2 separate regions of the Homo sapiens genome follow, and region 1 is linked to region 2. Evidence: fine-mapped QTL for protein levels in blood plasma. A gene starts in region 2. The other region holds a variant in brackets. All regions are shown on one strand. Distances are from middle to middle.

Region 1 (8,652 bases), 39 kb before region 2:
TTGTACCTAAGTATTGCATTTTTGGGGTGCTAAGGTAAATGGTGTTGTGTTTTAAACTTCAAATTCCACTTGTTCATTGCTGTTATAGAAAAGTGATTGACTTTTGTATATTAACTTTGTATCCTACAAATGTGCTATAGTTTTTTATTAGTTCCAGGAGGTTTTTGGTCAATTCGTTTGGATTGTATACATAGATATTCATGTCATCTGAGAACTAAAACAATTTTCTTTCTTTCTTCTCATCTGTATAACTTTTATTTCCTTTTCTTGTCTTATGGCATTAGTTAGTGCTTATAGTACAATACTGAAAAGGAGTGGTGAGAAGAACATTATTTCCTTATTCTTGGTCTTAGTTGGAAAGCTTCAAGTTTCTCACCATTACAGATGATGTTAGCTGCAGGGTTTTTTGTAGGCATTTGTTAACAAGTTGAAAAAGTTTCCCCTCTATTCCTAGTTTACTGAGAGTTTTTATCATAAATTGATGTTGGATTTTGTCAAATGCTTTTTCTGTATCTATTGGTATGATCATGTGATTTTTCTTTCATAGTCTGTCAATGTGATGGATTACATTAATTGATTTTCATATGTTGAACCTGCCTTGCACACCTGAGATAAATACCACTTAGTCATGATGTATAATTCTTTCTATATGCTGTTGGATCCAATTTGCTAATATTTTGTTTAAGGTTTCTACATGTATGTTCATGAGAAATATTTGTCTTAATTTTCTTTTCTTGTATTGTTCTTTGGTTTTAGCACAAGAATAATGCTGGCCTCATAAAATGAATTGGAAAGTATGCCCTCTGCTTCTATCTTCTAAAAGAGATTATAGAGAATTAGTATTTCTTCCTTAAATATCTGGTAGAATTCACCAATGAACCCATCTGAACCTGGTGCTTTCTGTTTTGGAAGATTATTAATTACTGATCTGATTTATTTAAACTGCCAGGCTGAAGTGATCCTCCCACCTCAGTCTCCCAAGTAGCTAGGACTACAGACACATGCCACAACACCTCAGTAACTTTTTAATTTTTAGTAGAGATAGGGTCTCCCTATGTTGCCCAGGCTGGTCTCGAACTCTCAGCCTCAAGCAATCCTCCCGTCTTGGCCTCACAAAGTGTTGGGATTATAGGCATAAGCCACTGCACGCAGCGTTCTTTCTCAATTTTTAAAAGCAGAGTGAACATTCTTAATCACTATTCTTCCCAGTGGAAAGTCATAAAAGTCACAAGAGACCAACTTAAATCAGTCCAAAAATCCTCCTACTTCTGTTTCTGCCTGTTACATTTCATCTGGTTCAAACTTTGTTCAAATATTCTTAACATTCTTTATCTCAGTCTACATAATATTATTTCCTATGTTGCATTTCTTTCCTTCTTCTCCTTTTTCCTATTTCCGCATATTTTTGTGTTTCTATGATGAATTTTTCCAATTTCTCTCTTTTTTCTTAGGAGTAAGATCAAAGGGTGTTTTTTTGAGGCTCTACCTTCAGTGACTTACTCCCTGCAGGTAACATAATGTCCACACAGCTATGAAAGAAAGATCATCTAGTTGAACTCAGAACAATGTTTGTTCTACATAACTTCAGGTCGGAACTGAACAATGTTTCTTTTATGTTCTTGGTCCATAAATGTGTACAACAGTTGGAAACTGGTACTCTAGAGAATATCCTCTTGCCTACCCCTTCAAAAAATGTGCCCTTTCCCTAGGCTCCCATTTAGAGTTCTGTGTCAATGTGGAGGGTGTTACAATCATCCTACTTCTTCCCAGCAGTTATCTAAAAGAGAATGGTGAAGTGCACTGGGTTTCTTTACCTGGAAATAGCCTTTGACTCTCAAAGGTACTCAGATTTTATTTTCCTCTTTCACAGCCAAATATATAACTGGCCTATTGGACTACCCCTCTTCTTACTTAAAGCCCAGGAATCTGGTTCCTACCCTCATCTATTCACAAGGTCTGTCAACAATGACCTCCTAAGTGCCAAATCCACAACCTCTTCTACATTGTCCTCCTTAAACCATTGGCTGTATATAATGTTATACCAAATGTCCTCTCTTGAAACTCTTCCTGTATCCTGAATAACAACTAGCAGTTTTATAGTGACTAACCATCAATACTCTTTCCCACATGCTATTTTATTTAATTTCCTCAGCCCTTGTAAAGTAAGTATTATTATCCCCCACATTCACACTGCCAGTAAGCAATGAAATCAGGTCTAGGACCTAGGTTTTCTTGCTCCCAATCCCATGTTCTCTTCTATCCAGAATTTTCTCCTGCCCTCAACTTCTCAATTTTCTAATCTGTATAAGTCTGTCTATATTCACGTGCTGCCATAAACCAGCTTTCTGACCTTGAGATCTCTGAACATCTGTAGCATGGGCATAAAACCTCCATGCTATCTACTCTGACCGCAGATAAGGAGATAAGGAGGAGCAAAATGTAGGAGCATGACACAAAGGCAAGAAATAATTGCTCACTAGCTTTCTTTCCATCTCCCAATGCCTTGGAGCTGCAATTTTCAAACGGTTAACCAATGGAAGTAAATTCCAAATTCCAGATTATAATTCTCCATCTCTGAGTCATCTTCTTACTTTTACTTCCCAGTACAGTGGGGAAGACACAGTGCTTTGAGTTCAGATGGAGTTGGATGTCAAATCCTGGCTTTGCTCTTAATAAATGTGTATATTTGGTCAAGTTATTTAACCTCACTGTGCCTCAGATTCCTCCTTTATAAATACCCACACCACTGGGTTGTTGTGTGGATTAAATGTGACACATTTATGTAAATCATTTACAGGAGTTTGTTGTGGAGCAGGCCTTCAGTAAGTATTAGTTCATTCCCCCAGTACAATACGAGTTGGACAAGAACTCTGTCCTCAATCTTAACTGTCTCTAAAATTCTCCTTTAGATTGTGTTTAACTAGTTAGTAACCCCATCGCCCCATTTCTGGGTTGCAGTGACGGTATGACAGTAGATGTCATGACTAAAATGATGACAAACCACAAAAAGGTCCTACTAGACAAAATGTTACAAGAAACATGAGATAATGAGGTAAAAAATTAAGTTACATTTGACCAATATCTACTATGTATATCTATATAGTATGGGTTTCTCTAGCTCATTCATATGAATAAATCAAAGAAAACTTTAAAATTTGATTTATTTTGAAACGTATAGAGAGTCAGGATGGTATCATACAAAAACACTCTGGAATTCAAAGACCTAAATTTTAATTCTATCTCCAATACTTAAGTGACCCTGGGCAAGTCACCCCACCTGGTTGACCCTGTCTCCTCATTCTTTTTTTTTTTTTTGAGACGGAATCTCACTCTGTCACCCAGGCTGGAGTGCAGTGGTGTGGTCTCAGCTCACTGCCAGCTCCGCCTCCCGGGTTCATGCCATTCTCCTGCCTCAGCCTCCCAAGTAGCTGGGACTACAGGTGCCCACCAACACACCTGACTAATTTTTTGTATTTTTAGTACAGACGGGGTTTCACCGTGTTAGCCAGGATGGTCTTGATCTCCTGACCTCGTGATCCACCCGCCTCAGCCTCCCAAAGTGTTGGGATTACAGGTGTGAGCCACCGCACCCGGCTACCTGTCTCCTCATTCTTAAAAGGTAAGTAACAACTGTCTGGCCAATCTAAAATGATAGTGGTGAGGAGCAAATGAGGCATTTATTTGAAGGGTTTGCTAAAGGAGAGCAGGCTAGTCAATGTGAGTTAGTTTGCTTCACTGATAAAGCATTGGAAAGTTTAGATGAGAAATCAAAACCTGAAAAAGTAAGATCTAGTATTTAACTGTTATACTTTCATGGATTTGTATCTATTATGATGCATGTGGTTCCACACAAAAGCATTCAAAAATCATCTCAGAAAAAAAAAGATCCTAGACTGTTACTGTTCAAAAGAACCATTAAGATCATTAAGTTCAGCTCCTGGTTTGCATTTTAAAAGGAGAAGGTCCTCCAATATTTGGTTAACAGAAACCAGGGTCAGAAGCCCAGACATATGTCTCAGATGTCAACACTACTCCAGGATTTAAACCTAAGACCTATCAAGCAACATTCCTCAAACTTTCAAAATCTGTTGTATATATGTGAACTATCAATTTGGAAGAAAATGTAAAAGAAGGATAAATCACCATTATTTAATAATTAAAAGAATTTTTTCAAATTAATAGTACTTATTTCAAATCAATAAGAGGAATATCATTCCTCTTATGATCTTTTACCAGACTATTTACAGGGAAAGTAATCTTACTTTCAGTAAGAGTAATTTTACTTTGTGTCTTCAAATTCTAATGGCAAACATAAAGTTAAACATAAAGTTTTGCAAGGGCAAAACCTTTAAAAATCCCCTAAAATATTCCATGTAATTCTATAGAGGGATCTTACTCAGAAATTATTTCCTTCAAGTATTTTGTCTCTTGGAACACTTAAAACTTTTCAAGATTTCAACTTGCTTGCTCTGTCTATATGTGGTCATCTTCTTCCCCCTTGTCAGTTAGATGCAGCACACATATACCAAAAGGCAAAAGCACACTGGTTTTATTTTTTGTTGTTCCCATTATAAAGCAACTATCTGCTTTTACAACAAATTGCATTTCCATATCGTATGCCTTGGGTATTATGTAACACTCAAAAGGTGGAATTAATAAAGGAATGTTTGCTCCAAGCTTAACTATTTTAACTTTGCAGCTCGTTTTAAAAACTTCTTGCAATTGTGTGACTTGTACAAACAGTGCTCCTTTGAGTGACACCTCTGTGGGTTTGATCTTTTCTCTGTCTTCAAAAATCAAATCTATCAGTTATAAATTGGGACTCATTTGCACTTTTTCTTTTTTTTCTCCGTGTTTCATAACTTTAATAGAATATTCTAACTATTATGTACAAATTGAAAACACTGTATTCAGTTATAAATGTGTTCTAAGGTTAGGCTGAGCACTCTCTACAGGCCTGGTCAGCGCGGACAAGGCCATCCCCGGCTGCCACAGAGCGCTGTCACCCACTTGGAAACCCCACTCACCAGCCACCAACCGGTCACACCAACCAGGACCTTCAGACAGGATGAATGGTGGGGCCCAGCAATGGGACTACTGAGAAAGCAGGACTTGACGCTCATATGCTCAAATGAAACGCAGGACTTCCCAGCCCAGCCCCTCACTGGAGAACACTGCCGAATCCCAACTCCGGCAGCAGGGCGGTGCCTGTGTCACGAGGACAGGCTCGCGTCTTCAGCCCTGGTGGCAGGAAGCAGTGTTTCTTCCGCACAGCCCTTGCTCCTGCTAGGAAGTGGCACATCTTCCTGCTCAGGTCACCAGGGTGGTTCAGAAATGGCAAGGACGAGCGACAGCAAAAGGCCGCAGTCCTCACAGGCAAGAAGGGATAAATAAATATGAGGTGACCCGTGGCAGCTCTCGCCTGAGCTGGTGTGCCACAACCCTGACCCAACCCTTAAAAAAGAAGATCAAAAAGCAACATCCTAAGGAGAATACGGCCCTACTCTACACGGCCCTTCTGAGATGATTAGCATACAGCAGGTGATGCAGGCTGCACACTCAGCAGATTAAGCAGCTGAAAACAGCGAGTGGGTTTCTTCAAATGAAAGGAAAGAATTCAGTCCAACTGCAGGAGTGGTAGGAGAGGTTCTAGATCCCTGGAACCTCATCACCAGACCTCGGCCCTTTTAGCCAAGTGATCCCCACCCCATCCCACCCCACCCCAATGGGGTCTATGGGGCCCTCCCGCAGGGAAGGGTCCAGGCAAGTCCAGAGCTACAGGCACCAAGGCTGCAGAGGGTATTGGACAAAACCTCCTATTTCTGAAATGCATTTCAGTTGCCACTGTACACATTAAGCAAAATAATAAGGAAAAAGGAAAAGTGAAAGTGAAAATCATGCACTTGAAAACGATTAGATGGAGTAAGCGCTGTCGACGGGATTGTGC[C/T]GCATGCGGCAAAGACTGAGGCCTCCCGCTACAGGCCCGGAGTCGCGACAGCCGGTCTGCCAGGCGCCCACCTCCACTTCCTACTGCTGCTTGCATTCCGCCGGCTGGCTGGGTTCCTTGTTGGGATTAATTTCCACCTCATCCTCATCTTCTCCCTCCTCATCACCTTCTAATTCGTCCTCTTCTTCTTCACCTTCGTCAAAATTGTCATCATCCTTTAAGGCCTCCCCAGCGAAGTACAGCACAGCCTGTGGTCCGCTCACGGAAAAAGTGTCCAATTTCAAAATCAGAGGCTAATACGAATTCAGAATCTTTATCCAGTGATTCTCCGTCCCCAGATGCTTTCAGTGGATTGAAGAAGTTGAAAAATGACTCATTGGATACTTGTTTGGTAATTGTTCTAACAGTGCCTGGACCCTTACGCTTCTGCTTTTTCTTGATGGTTTTGACAGTAACATTCTTTCCTTTCTTCCAGTCAATAGTACACCCATCGCAGTCCATGATCTCAGGACCTGCAAATGAAAAGGGATCAGCCTTATCTGGTTCTGATTTCATCTTGCAGGTTTTTGTCAGGACTGAGTTGGCAAAGCAGTCATTGGGTTGAAAGTGGAACTCTTAATATGAAAGACATAGGCTGTCCAGGGTCAGAAAACTTCACTTTAATATCCTGCAGGTATTTCAAGATTGGTTCATCATATTCCTGGACTAATTCACTTAGCATATCTACATTTCTAAAGATGGTAAACCAGAACTCTGGAATTCCTTTGGGATTTGGCTCTTCAGCTGTTGCTGCTGCTTTTTCTGTTATGACTACTTTATTTTTCCTGTCTCCAGCCAATTTCTCCTCCTCTTCATTTTCACGGTGCCATTCTGATTCCATATCAGATGTTGGTTCAACATCACCGGTGATAAATTCTCTTCTCTCGTCAAAGAGAGGCTGGTATAATGCTGCATATTTTCTTTCCAAGTCATGAACTTCTTCATAGAACTTGGCTTCTATATGAGCGCATCTCACCTGAATTTGTTTCAATGCATTAATTCTTCTTTTTACTGCTTTAGGTAAAGTTTCGATGTAGCTGGAAGGGGTGTGAGGGGCATTGTCAAGTCGCTCCTGTAAAGCTGCCAAAACTCCAGGATTCTGCATCACCTGATCCGTGAGCTTTTCCGTCTTACTTGCATTTTTAGCAGCTTCCACGAAATCTGAAGGAACCCCATCTGAAAAACTGTTATCTGCCATCTGAATGTTTTTATCCCCTTGTCTGGTAAACCAAGTCCCGTGAGTAACTAGGCTAAGGCACTCAGGCCAGTCCTCGGGGAGCACACGCCGCCCATCTGGCTCGCACCGCACAGCTCCCAACAGCTGAGATGCAATGCCAAGGACTTTCTTCCCCATCAGACATGCCCTCGTCCACACGAAACTTACAATCAAAACCCCAGTTAGCCCAGCCTGACCCCACAGATGCTCACGATGACCATCGCCCTACGGAAAAACTCAAATTCCTAAACATCTAATAAAGAGGTCCTGGACGTCTCCACCTTAAAAACGGGAAGCCTGAATGCTCCTCCGGGTGCGCCGCGGCCCTCCGGGTACGCGGGGCTGGCTGGGCTAGCGGGAGATTTGAGCTGCCAGCCCCCACTCGCCGCCCTCTACGCCTCCTCCGCTGGGCCGCCGGCGAGGAAGCCGCCCGCAGCGCAGAACAAAGCGACTTGACCTTCAGGGCAGTGGGCGGCAGGGCAGGGGCGCACCGGGTGCTGGGAGGGGCCGCTCCAGGCCCCAAGCCCCAGGCCCGCCGCGGCGGCGCTGCCCACCCTGACGAGGACGTCTACTTTTTCTTGAAAAATGTCTTTCCTTTCCCAAAAGTGACTCTGCTTTGTCTGAAAATAATATAACTTTAATGGCTTTAAGTTATTGTTTGAAAGGGTTCAGAAAAGACAATAAATGGGAGACTTAGAATGGCTCACCAGTTAAAATCCAAGTTTCATATATTTCTTGTATTTGCTAATTTCCCTTATCTGTTTCAGCTGCTTGTTCAGAAAAATTTCATTCATAGACTCACCTTATCCCAGCCCTAGAGACTCATATTCTCTATTTGCCCTGGAATCCTGTTCACTATTTACAATTATATTATTCTGAATAATAGTATTTACTATTTTCGTCTCTTTTATATTTTAATAAACCACTTTCAAGTCACTGACCTTTTTGTTTGTTAAACTGGGGATATAATGTAAAAAACAGATAATAAAAATTACAAATGTAAATAATACTAAAACAACATTAGAAAATCATAGCCAAGACAGATTGTCATGATATTAACTTAGTGTTAGGCCTAAGGAAACATATCAAATGCATGTTCCTGTAGTAGATATGTAACCTTTCAGAACATAATGATATTATAACAATATTATAAAGCAGCATTGTGAATAGTTAAAACCATGGGCTCTAGAGCCAGATAGCCTCTACTCAAAGCCAGGTTCTGCCACTTACTAGCTGTTACCTTGAGCAAACAACTTAAACTCTCTCTCTGTTGGTTTCTCACCAGGAAACAGGGATAAGTACTAGTACACAACTTATAGGTTGTATGAGGATTGATGTGAAGATTGAATTAATTAACATATGTATTAGAATGGTGCTCAACACAGAAAGTGCTAAATAATGTTAGCTTTGTATCTATAATGGGGTTTCTGTTAAAAATTGTAACTTGTTG
Region 2 (8,731 bases):
AAGAACTAAGCAGCAAGATTATTAGTGTTAGAAGTATCAGGGTGAACTCCTGACTTTGTAAAAACTCTATTTCTTAACTTTGAAAACTGACAAGGCTGAGAAGCAATGACTCTGGTACCTGTGGGCACACTTTGCACCCAGAACTTGATTTCTAAATACCATCTCTCACTAAAAGAAACCAGGGAACCTAATGATTCGAAGGCTGAGGCAGGAACACTACAAGATGAGTCCAGAACATCTTTCTGTGCCAGAAAGTAAGGAAGTGTTTAAAATCAAACAGGAACAAACAGAGCAAAAGGACTCTGAAGCTTGAAGGTGTTCCCACTTGTCAAATGTGGGGTTGCCGAGCATCAAAATGGATGACAGGAATGCCATATTTAAAAAAGAATCCATGAGTCCACATAACCTTCTAAAATAAAAGAAAAAAAGGGAGGATGTGTGTGCAAAAGCTATCCATTACTGAACAATGTAAACTAATAAATATATATATAGAGAGAAACAGAAGAGAAAATTGCTGGGTGGCTCATGCCTATAATCCCGACACTTTGGGAAACTGACTTGGGAGGATTGCTTGAGCCCAGGAGTTCAAGACCAGCCTGGGCAACATGGCAAAACCCCGTCTCTATAAAAAATACAAAAAAATTAGGTGGACGTGAAGGCATGTCCCTGTAGTCCCAGCTATTTGGAAACTGAGGTGGGAGGATCGCTTGAGTCTGGGAGATCAAGGCTGCAGTGAGCCATAATTGTGTCACTATACTCTAGCCTGGGCAACAGAGTGAGACTGTGTCTCAAAAGAAAAGAGAAAAGGCAATGAAACAAAGAAGGAAAGAAGGGAAGGGAAGGGAAGGGAAGGGAAGGGACAGGAAGGGAGGGGGAGGGGAGGGAAAGGGAGGGGAGGGGAGGGAGGGAGGGGAGGGGAGAGAGGAAGGATGGAAGGAAGGGAGGGAGGGAGAAGAAAGGGACAAGGGTGGGGGAAGAAAATTACCATTTGAAAATATTTTAGTGGCTGGATGTGGTGGTTCATGCCTGTAATCCCAACACTTCGGTAGGCCAAGGAGGGAGGATCACTTGAGCCCAGGAGTTTAAGACCAGTCTGGGCAACATAGGGAAACCCTGTTTCTACAAAAACTAAAAAAAAATTAGCCAAGCATGGTGGCATGCACCTGTAGTCCTGGCTACTCAGAAGGCTGAGGTGGCAGAATTGCTTGAGCCTCAGAGGTCGAGGCTGGAGTTAGCTGTGATAGCACCCCTGTACTCCAGCCTGGGTGACACAGTGAGACCCTGTCTCAAAAAATAAAATAAAATATTTTAGTGATAATGGATTCTGGGAAGAATCACCATAGGATACTAAAACCACTGAATGAACAATGGCTGGAGAACAGGATATTCACTCAACCTCAAAACATCACTTAACACATCATTTATTACTTACAAAGGTAAAATGGTGCCTCTACAATGGAGAAATCTGGTAAACTTCACTTTAACCAAATGTCAAAGTTAACATCTCCAATAATGTGACAAACAGACCACATCTTCCTGATGTGACACACTGAGAAGGACCCAACATAGCTATGAAGTATTCCTGCTACAAAGAGTTACAACCAGAATCTGATCATGAGGAAACAAGCAGGCAATCCACATCCAAAGGGACATTCGGTAAAGCAACTAGCCCAGACACTTCAAAAATGATGATGTCTTAAAGTACCAAAAAAAAAAAAAAAAAAAAGCAACAGTTTTAGGTTAAAGGGGGTTAAAAAGGCATGATTATCAAATGAAGTATGTGGTGCAGGACTGGCTTCTGGGTTCTCTACCAGGAAACAGTATTGTATCAATGCCACATTTCCAGATTATGATGATTCTGTGACTTGTTGGAGAATGCTCTTGTTCTTATGAGACATATGATAAAGAATTACAGGTGAGGTGTCATGAGATCTGAAACTCTCAAATGGTTTGGCAAAAATAACAGATGGCAAAAATAACAAAGAAAACTAATGTGACAGTTAACTGGTGATTCAAGGAGAAAGTACGCAAATGTTCACTGTACTAATTTTGCAACTGTCCTAAAGATTTTAATTGTTCTAAAATTTCAAAAAAAACCCTAAACTGAAGTATTAACGACTTCCATCACCCCTTTCTTTGCTTTACTCATCTCTGTACTAGTAAATGTTTACTTTATCACCATCCAGCATCCATGTTTTTACTCATTTACTTACTGTCTCTCTCCCTCACTATAAGGTGAGCTTCACAAAGGCAGGGAACTGTGCATAGCTTGCTGTATCCCCCGTCCATTGTGCAGTGCTTAACATATAATTGACACTCAGTAAATATTTATTGCATGACTGATGTTCCCAGTAATTCTATGAAGTGGGTTTATTATTCTCCTTTCCCTCATGTGAGTGGTACTCTCTTCAAAAGTGAAGGTACTGAAGTGAAGAGAAGTTAGGGAACTCACACAAGTTCATGACTCAGGTGAGGAGTGGGGCCAGGATCCAAAGCTAGGCATCTGACCCCAGAGCTGATGCTGTTAATCACTGCATTTGCAGCTTCCCTAATGAGGCAGGCTTGGGTCCCCAAAAGGGGATATACCCATTCAGTCTTGTCTTTAGTTTAAGGCCTATGCAGAGCAGTTTATAAATACATGTTTGCTGAATCAAATGACTTCTGAATGAATACATGAATTAGGTGAGAGAGATCACCAGGAAGGGACAGTTCAAATAATCTGTTGGAGGTGGAGCTTGGGCAAACTGGGTTTGCAGTGGAAGGGAGAACACAGGTACAGGCAGCAGTGACCCAAGGTGCCAGGGAATGAGGGACCAGCTTGCCTGGAGGAGAGTTACCCCATCCATTCAATTAATCCCTGTTTGTATCTCTTCTTTTCCCCAGCCACCCGCACATGAACTCCCCAGAGCTATTTGGGCCCTGTGATGGTAGTCCACCCTGGCCTTCTGGCCTCCCTGCCTCCAATTCCTCCTGACTGCAGCCTTCCTCTTTGTTGCTAACAGATTCTTCTTCCCAGGCGCATGGTCCTGATCCTGTAAGGCCCAGGAGAAGCTCTCTCAGCTCAGAGAATCCAGACTCCCTAAGGGGACACTCAGCAATCTTTTCCCACATTATCACATGTCCACACATCACCAGTCCTTGAAGGCTGGGCTCAAATATCCTCCCTCCCATGAAGACTGCTTCACAAAAGACACTTGATTTCACAAAAGAGACTGCCTTCTTCTTCCCTCTGTACCCTCACAGCTCACCTTTTTTTTTTTTTTTTTTTTTTGAGACAGGTCATATTCTGTCACCCAGGCTGGAGTTCAGTGGCACAATCACAGCTCACTGCATCCTCTGCCTCCGGGACTCAGGTGATTCTCCCACCTCAGCCTTCCGAGTAGCTGGGACTATAGGTATGCGCCACCACGCTCAGCTAATTTTTGTATTTTTTGTAGAGCCGATCTTTCACCGTGTTGGCCCTGCTGGTCTCCGATTCCTGGCCTCAAGTGATCCACCTGCCTCAGCCTCCCAAAGTGCTAGGATGACAGGTGTAAGCCACCACGCCCAGCCCAGGCCTCTTACAACACTGACTTATCTGATCGTGCGGGTACTTTTGAGTCTATCTCAACCCCTCCCCCTTGGCTGTCTTCCATAGATGCACACGCGCACCTCCCGGGCAGGCAGCGGACGCTGAGCAAACGGACGGACGGGCTGGAGGGCTGGCAGTGGGGTGCAGGAGCCAGCCATGAGAACCCCTCAAGTACAGTTGAACTCGCTGGGAGGTTACTGCTGTACTCCCGGGGTTTTGCTATGGCCTGACTGGGGCCAATGTGTGGAGGGTGAAGGAGGATGGGGAGGCAAAATGGGAAGAAGGGGACCTATTTCCTGAGGTTGTTGTGACGACTTGGCTGACAACACACGGAGAGGATGGAACCAGTTCTGATACTAGTTTTTAGGATTTGAGGGGAGGAAAAAGGAGCAGGAGTCGCACCACTTAGGAATCCCAACGTGAGGCCGCTGCCGACTGGGCTTCCTAGTTGCCTACCCGCTCCTCGCTGTGGGGCGATTCTGAAAAGTCCTCTCTGCTGATACGGCGGACGCCGCGCGGGCGGGGACGGCACCGCGCGGGGAGGGCAGCAGGCGTCGCCCTCGAGCAGGTGGCATCCGCGCCCGCTCCCCGTCCCGGGCGCGTTCACGGCTGGGAAAAATTTTGCAGTCCGCTGAAGCGCTCAGCGACGTTACTGGGGAAGCCCAGGAAGGAACTTGGTCACTGGAGCTCGGGAGGGGGCCGGCGGGGGGGCGCAGGCCCCGCAGGAGAGGCTAGCGGGCCGGAGCCCGTCCTTCCCTAAGGCCACACAGTTCCTTGCTGACTCCATGAGGGACACTGGCGATGAAATAACAACTTTCTCTTCCTGAAAAGGCTCCCACGGCTGAGTTGTTCCCGGCCCACAGCGACCCGTCCCCACCCGTCTCTGATCGGCAACCGCCTCGAGCCCGGCGCGTCCACCCAGCCTGGGTGCTGCCCAGTACCCGCCGGCCGGCGCGGGGCCCCTGGGGCAGGCTTCACTCACCAAAGCAGTGCAGCAGGCAGACCACGCTGAGGACCCCCAGGGCCCGCCCCGCGTCGCTCCCAGCAACCATGGCTCGTCGGGCCGGCCTCTGCGCGAGTGCCCAGCCACAAGCAGCCCTAAGTTCAAGCACCGCCTACGCGGTCGGCCAGAAGTAGGGCTCCGCCCCGCCCTGGGCTGGCAGCCGGCGGCCCGCCCCGGCCCTTCCTCCCCCACCCTCCGCGGCGCCGCGTTTGTCTTCGCGCTTCCACTCCCCGGGCGCGCCTCTGGCCTCGGCTCTGCGCGCCTCCTTCCTGTGTCCCCGGGGCGCCGTCCAGTCCCCCAGCTCGGTCCCTCCCGTCATTCCGCCGCCATTCCATACGCTATTTTTAAGTAAGAAATTCTTTCCTTGAAAATGGCTTGGTTTTAAAAACCAAGGTTTTAAAGTAAGAAATTCTTTCCTTGAAAATGGCTTGGTTTTAAAAACCAGGTTTCTCTGCCTTCCTACCGCACCTCCCGCGCTTCCCCTTAGCGTTTGGGGCGTGCTGTAGGCCCCTCCGTGGCTAGACGGGGCTGTGGCTCCCAGAGAGCCACCGGAGGAGGCAGCAGGACGGGCGGGAGCACCCGGGGCCCCTCATCCCTTCAGCGCTGTGTGATCCCGCATCAGACGGCCTCTTTGAACCACTTTTCCTCAAACATGACAAGGAAAGGGAGCATTTTAGACAACTGTTAGGCGTAGGGTTACCTGAGGCAGGCCTCCCCCGTCCCCATACTCCCTTATCCCCGGAGCTGGGATTTCCAGCCTTTGGTTTCTCCCTTCTCAGATTCCTCTTTTTCTGTCTTCCCCCATCTCAACCGGGACTTTCCCTCAGGCTGAGATGTCAGATCCACATCTCCCTCACTGCCCAGCCTCCCCACATCCATCCAGCCCAAGCTGAGGCAGGCACTCATCACTCTCCCCGCTCTTCATCAGTCTGGATTGAGCTGGCCCTCCCCTCACATCCCTATATCCCAGAACAAATGACCCTATTCCCAGAACCAGCTCCTCACATCAGCCTCCCTGTCTGTCCCCTTTCTTGCAGACAGAAGCACCAGAGTTGCCCCTGCCCAGCTGAGGGAGTTCACAGAACTCTTAGTTATTATGTGAGCAGGAATCCATTTCCATGAACAGGACTCCCTGCTGCCCAAATAACCACCAACACATACATGGTGCAGGTTGTGAAACTGAGTGGGAATGTGCTTTCTTGCTGCTTCACCTCCATTATCCCCAGGTGGGGACTCGAAGTCACTCAAGACACTTGAACCATATTGCAAAGAGACATGAATTATTTCTTAAGTTAGCCATAAAATCTTAAAAGGTATCTCTATCAGTGAAACTTCTGGGACCAATGCCCTCTACCACAAACCTGCTATCTCGAGATATTCCCTACCATCTGTAGATACTGGGAACACAAGGCAGGGGCAGTGTGTAACATAAAATATGAGGAAATCAAGTGTTCTCTGCCCTGGGCTGGTAGGAACTCAGGCCAACTTAGAAAGGCAGGATGGGGTTAGACCTTCAGACACTGGGGAGCCACAGAAAGTTTTTGAGCTGGGAAGTGATATGACAGCAAACATCTATTGAGCAGGCCCTGTGTGAAGTGCATTGCTTGGATTAACTTAGTCTTACTGCTGCTGTTGTTTTTGCAAATGAGGAAACTGATGCCTGGGGAAGGTAAATTACTCAGGGCACACAGTAAAGGGCAGAACTTGGAGTCCAGCTGAGGCCATGTCCAATGCCTCTACTCTTATCCCTTCATACAGGAACGGGATATGATAATGGGACTTTTGGACTGACAGCTATGCAGCCATTTGGACTGCCAGCAAGAGCTGTTAAGCCCCTTAAGAGCAGGGCTGAGGAAAGAACAGCCCAGTCACATGGGGCTGGGGAAGCCCCTCACCCCCAGGTCATGGTCTCCAGGTATTGGGTGAGGAATAACTCATTAGGCTTCCTTGGTTGGACTCTCCTTTGACCAAGGAGCAGTGCCTGCTCTTTCATTGAGAGAAATGCTGTCCATCAAGCACTTTTAGAAGCCCTCAAATGCCTGGTTAATTTTATGAATCAAAAGCAGCTCAGGAATGCTGGACCTGCAATGCGTTAAGCAGGCAGCCAAAAAGATTCCCTTTACATACTGAGAACCTGCTATCAAAAGGAGGGGTGGATGTATTTTTCATGCTGTGACTAGTATTGCAAGGTCCAGTTTTATCTTCTTGTCACTGTAGATAATCATGGATGAGAAAGTAAGAAAAGAGGGCAGCTGAAGAGGCCGGGGCTGTTCTTCCTAGCATGCCACTCTCTGGTGTCTTGACTCTCGTTTCTGCCAAACCTTTGGAACTACTCCCACAAAGCTTAGGAATCCCAGAATGTAGTGAGCAAAACACTGCTCAATCCTGCATAAATGCAAATTGTCATTTTCATTGCATGCCTCATGAGGGAACATACATTCATTTATATAAATACTGGTTGGATTTGCACGAAGGACATAGAAGGGTAATCTTATTCCATAATACTCTATTTCCCTTTTTAAAACATACCCTGGCAGAAAAAGAACATTAGAAAAAAATTAGGAAAAATTATACATAAGACTTAACATGGAACCATTATGGGTACCCAAGGGAGAGGCAGTCACATTTTCAACTCCTGGCCAAGCCAGCAGCTGCAAGGAGTTGATAAGGATGCAGCCAATGGTTCTGGGAGCAGAGGAAAGCACACACGAAAGCTTTTGAAAGTCTTGGATTTAGAAAAAGAAGAAAAAAAGAAGTGTCTCCCTCTGCTTCTTACTATCTAGTTCCTTTTTGCATATTCTATGAATTTTAAAGAATTATAGATGGGTTCTGACTAATCACGTATCACTGCTATGGTTTTAATCATTCTAACATTCTTCTCAATTTGCAGATGTAAACCCCTCCCAACACTGGAAGAGGAAACAGAGACCAGTGCGCTGTGCAGTCTCACTTAACTAGAATGCACAACTCCTGCTTTTATCACCATTCTGGGAAATCCCCGCTGCATTTCATGGCCAGGGCAGCACTTCATAGTTGGAAAAGGATGGTGTGGACTTGCCGCAGAGGCCCTAGAGAAGGCCATCCTGTGTTCCTGCTCTCCTTCTCATCCGGCTTCTACCCCCACCCCACCCCCCAACAAAAACGCTACAGGTTATAAGATCTACATTCTGAACCTGGCTTTCAGGGGCTAGGTGTGTTGTGTGTTGCACAGCTCTAGAGGTAGCATAGCCTTGATCATCGGGGTGGAGGTGTCTATTTACTATATGTTGCAGCAGATGGCAGTGAAGTGTCTTGAGGAAGAGGTGTTTTTATCATTTGAAGGTTATGGGGTGTAATAATAAAGACTGCAATTCACAGACCTTGAGCCTAGCAGGCCAATGCCAAGGGCAGAACTGTAGGCTCCCACAGCACAGTTCCACAGAGGAAGGGGGCTGGTTAGTAAGGGGAAAGAAGGATAGAAGACTGCAGTAAATGTAAACAGCCGTATTTTCAACATAATTTACTACAGGTCTCTGAAGTGTATATAAAATGTTTTAGTGCAACATCTTACAAATAGTTTTCCTTTAAAAAAACAGAAACAAATCAACAGCTCTCTACATCATGCATGGGTAGTTTTCTTACCCCATCTTTTTTTTTCCTCAATAATTAACGCAGAGAAACCATTGTTTGAAAAGAATATGAAAACTTGCTACAGAAACACCCGGTGAAAGAGGGTGTGGTCATATTCATGTCCTAGAATGCGCCTAGCACAGTGTAGTTTTTCATAAATGCAACATTGTAGACATAGATGAATCCAGAGTATTCAGCAGTTTTCCTCCGTCTCAGAAGACTAAAGCTCCAGTAGACAATGCGCAATGAGGTCTCACAGCCACTGGAGGGCACCATTACCATCCATCTGACATCGCATTTCCATAGAAATGGCCAAAGAAAGAAGGTCCTGGGGTTTTTCATAGAAAGCTCAAAAAGTTCAACCTTTGATGCTATCCCCCAGCCCAATACAAAATACACAGAAAAAGCAATTATTAAAATACTGGCTTCGGTTTCTTTTTTTCCTTTCAAATTTCCTACAATTGCTTTACATATTTGTGTGCAGCACCTACTTCTTTATCGCCGTGAACTGAAATCTAAGATTTCAAACTGAAATCTTAGTTACACAT

Evidence for each region. PIP is the posterior inclusion probability: the model's chance that the variant is causal. The UK Biobank Pharma Proteomics Project read protein levels with antibody pairs (Olink). The fine-mapping took linkage between variants from a reference panel, not from the people measured, so its PIPs are less certain.
Region 1: its variant is fine-mapped to the plasma level of the CD58 protein (UK Biobank, PIP 0.94).

Annotation. Positions count from the first base shown.
Region 1 is chr1:116,526,909-116,535,560 of GRCh38, forward strand. All of the region lies in intron 3 of CD58 (CD58 molecule), which reads right to left. It also overlaps the pseudogene NAP1L4P1. Among named protein-coding and RNA genes, the nearest start is that of MIR548AC, 29 kb to the right of the region's middle. The variant C/T (reference allele first, on the strand shown) is at 5,948.
Region 2 is chr1:116,566,350-116,575,080 of GRCh38, forward strand. CD58 (CD58 molecule) reads right to left here and starts at 4,677. Exons shown (of 6, transcript NM_001779.3): 1 at 4,554-4,677. The coding sequence starts at 4,623. It overlaps IGSF3 (immunoglobulin superfamily member 3), which reads right to left. Exons shown (of 11, transcript NM_001007237.3): 11 at 8,059-8,731. It overlaps LOC124904385 (a long non-coding RNA gene), which reads left to right and starts at 4,626. Exons shown (of 2, transcript XR_007066497.1): 1 at 4,626-4,704; 2 at 7,465-8,401. RefSeq lists enhancers at 3,749-3,808, 7,692-7,981 and silencers at 4,279-4,348, 4,419-4,878.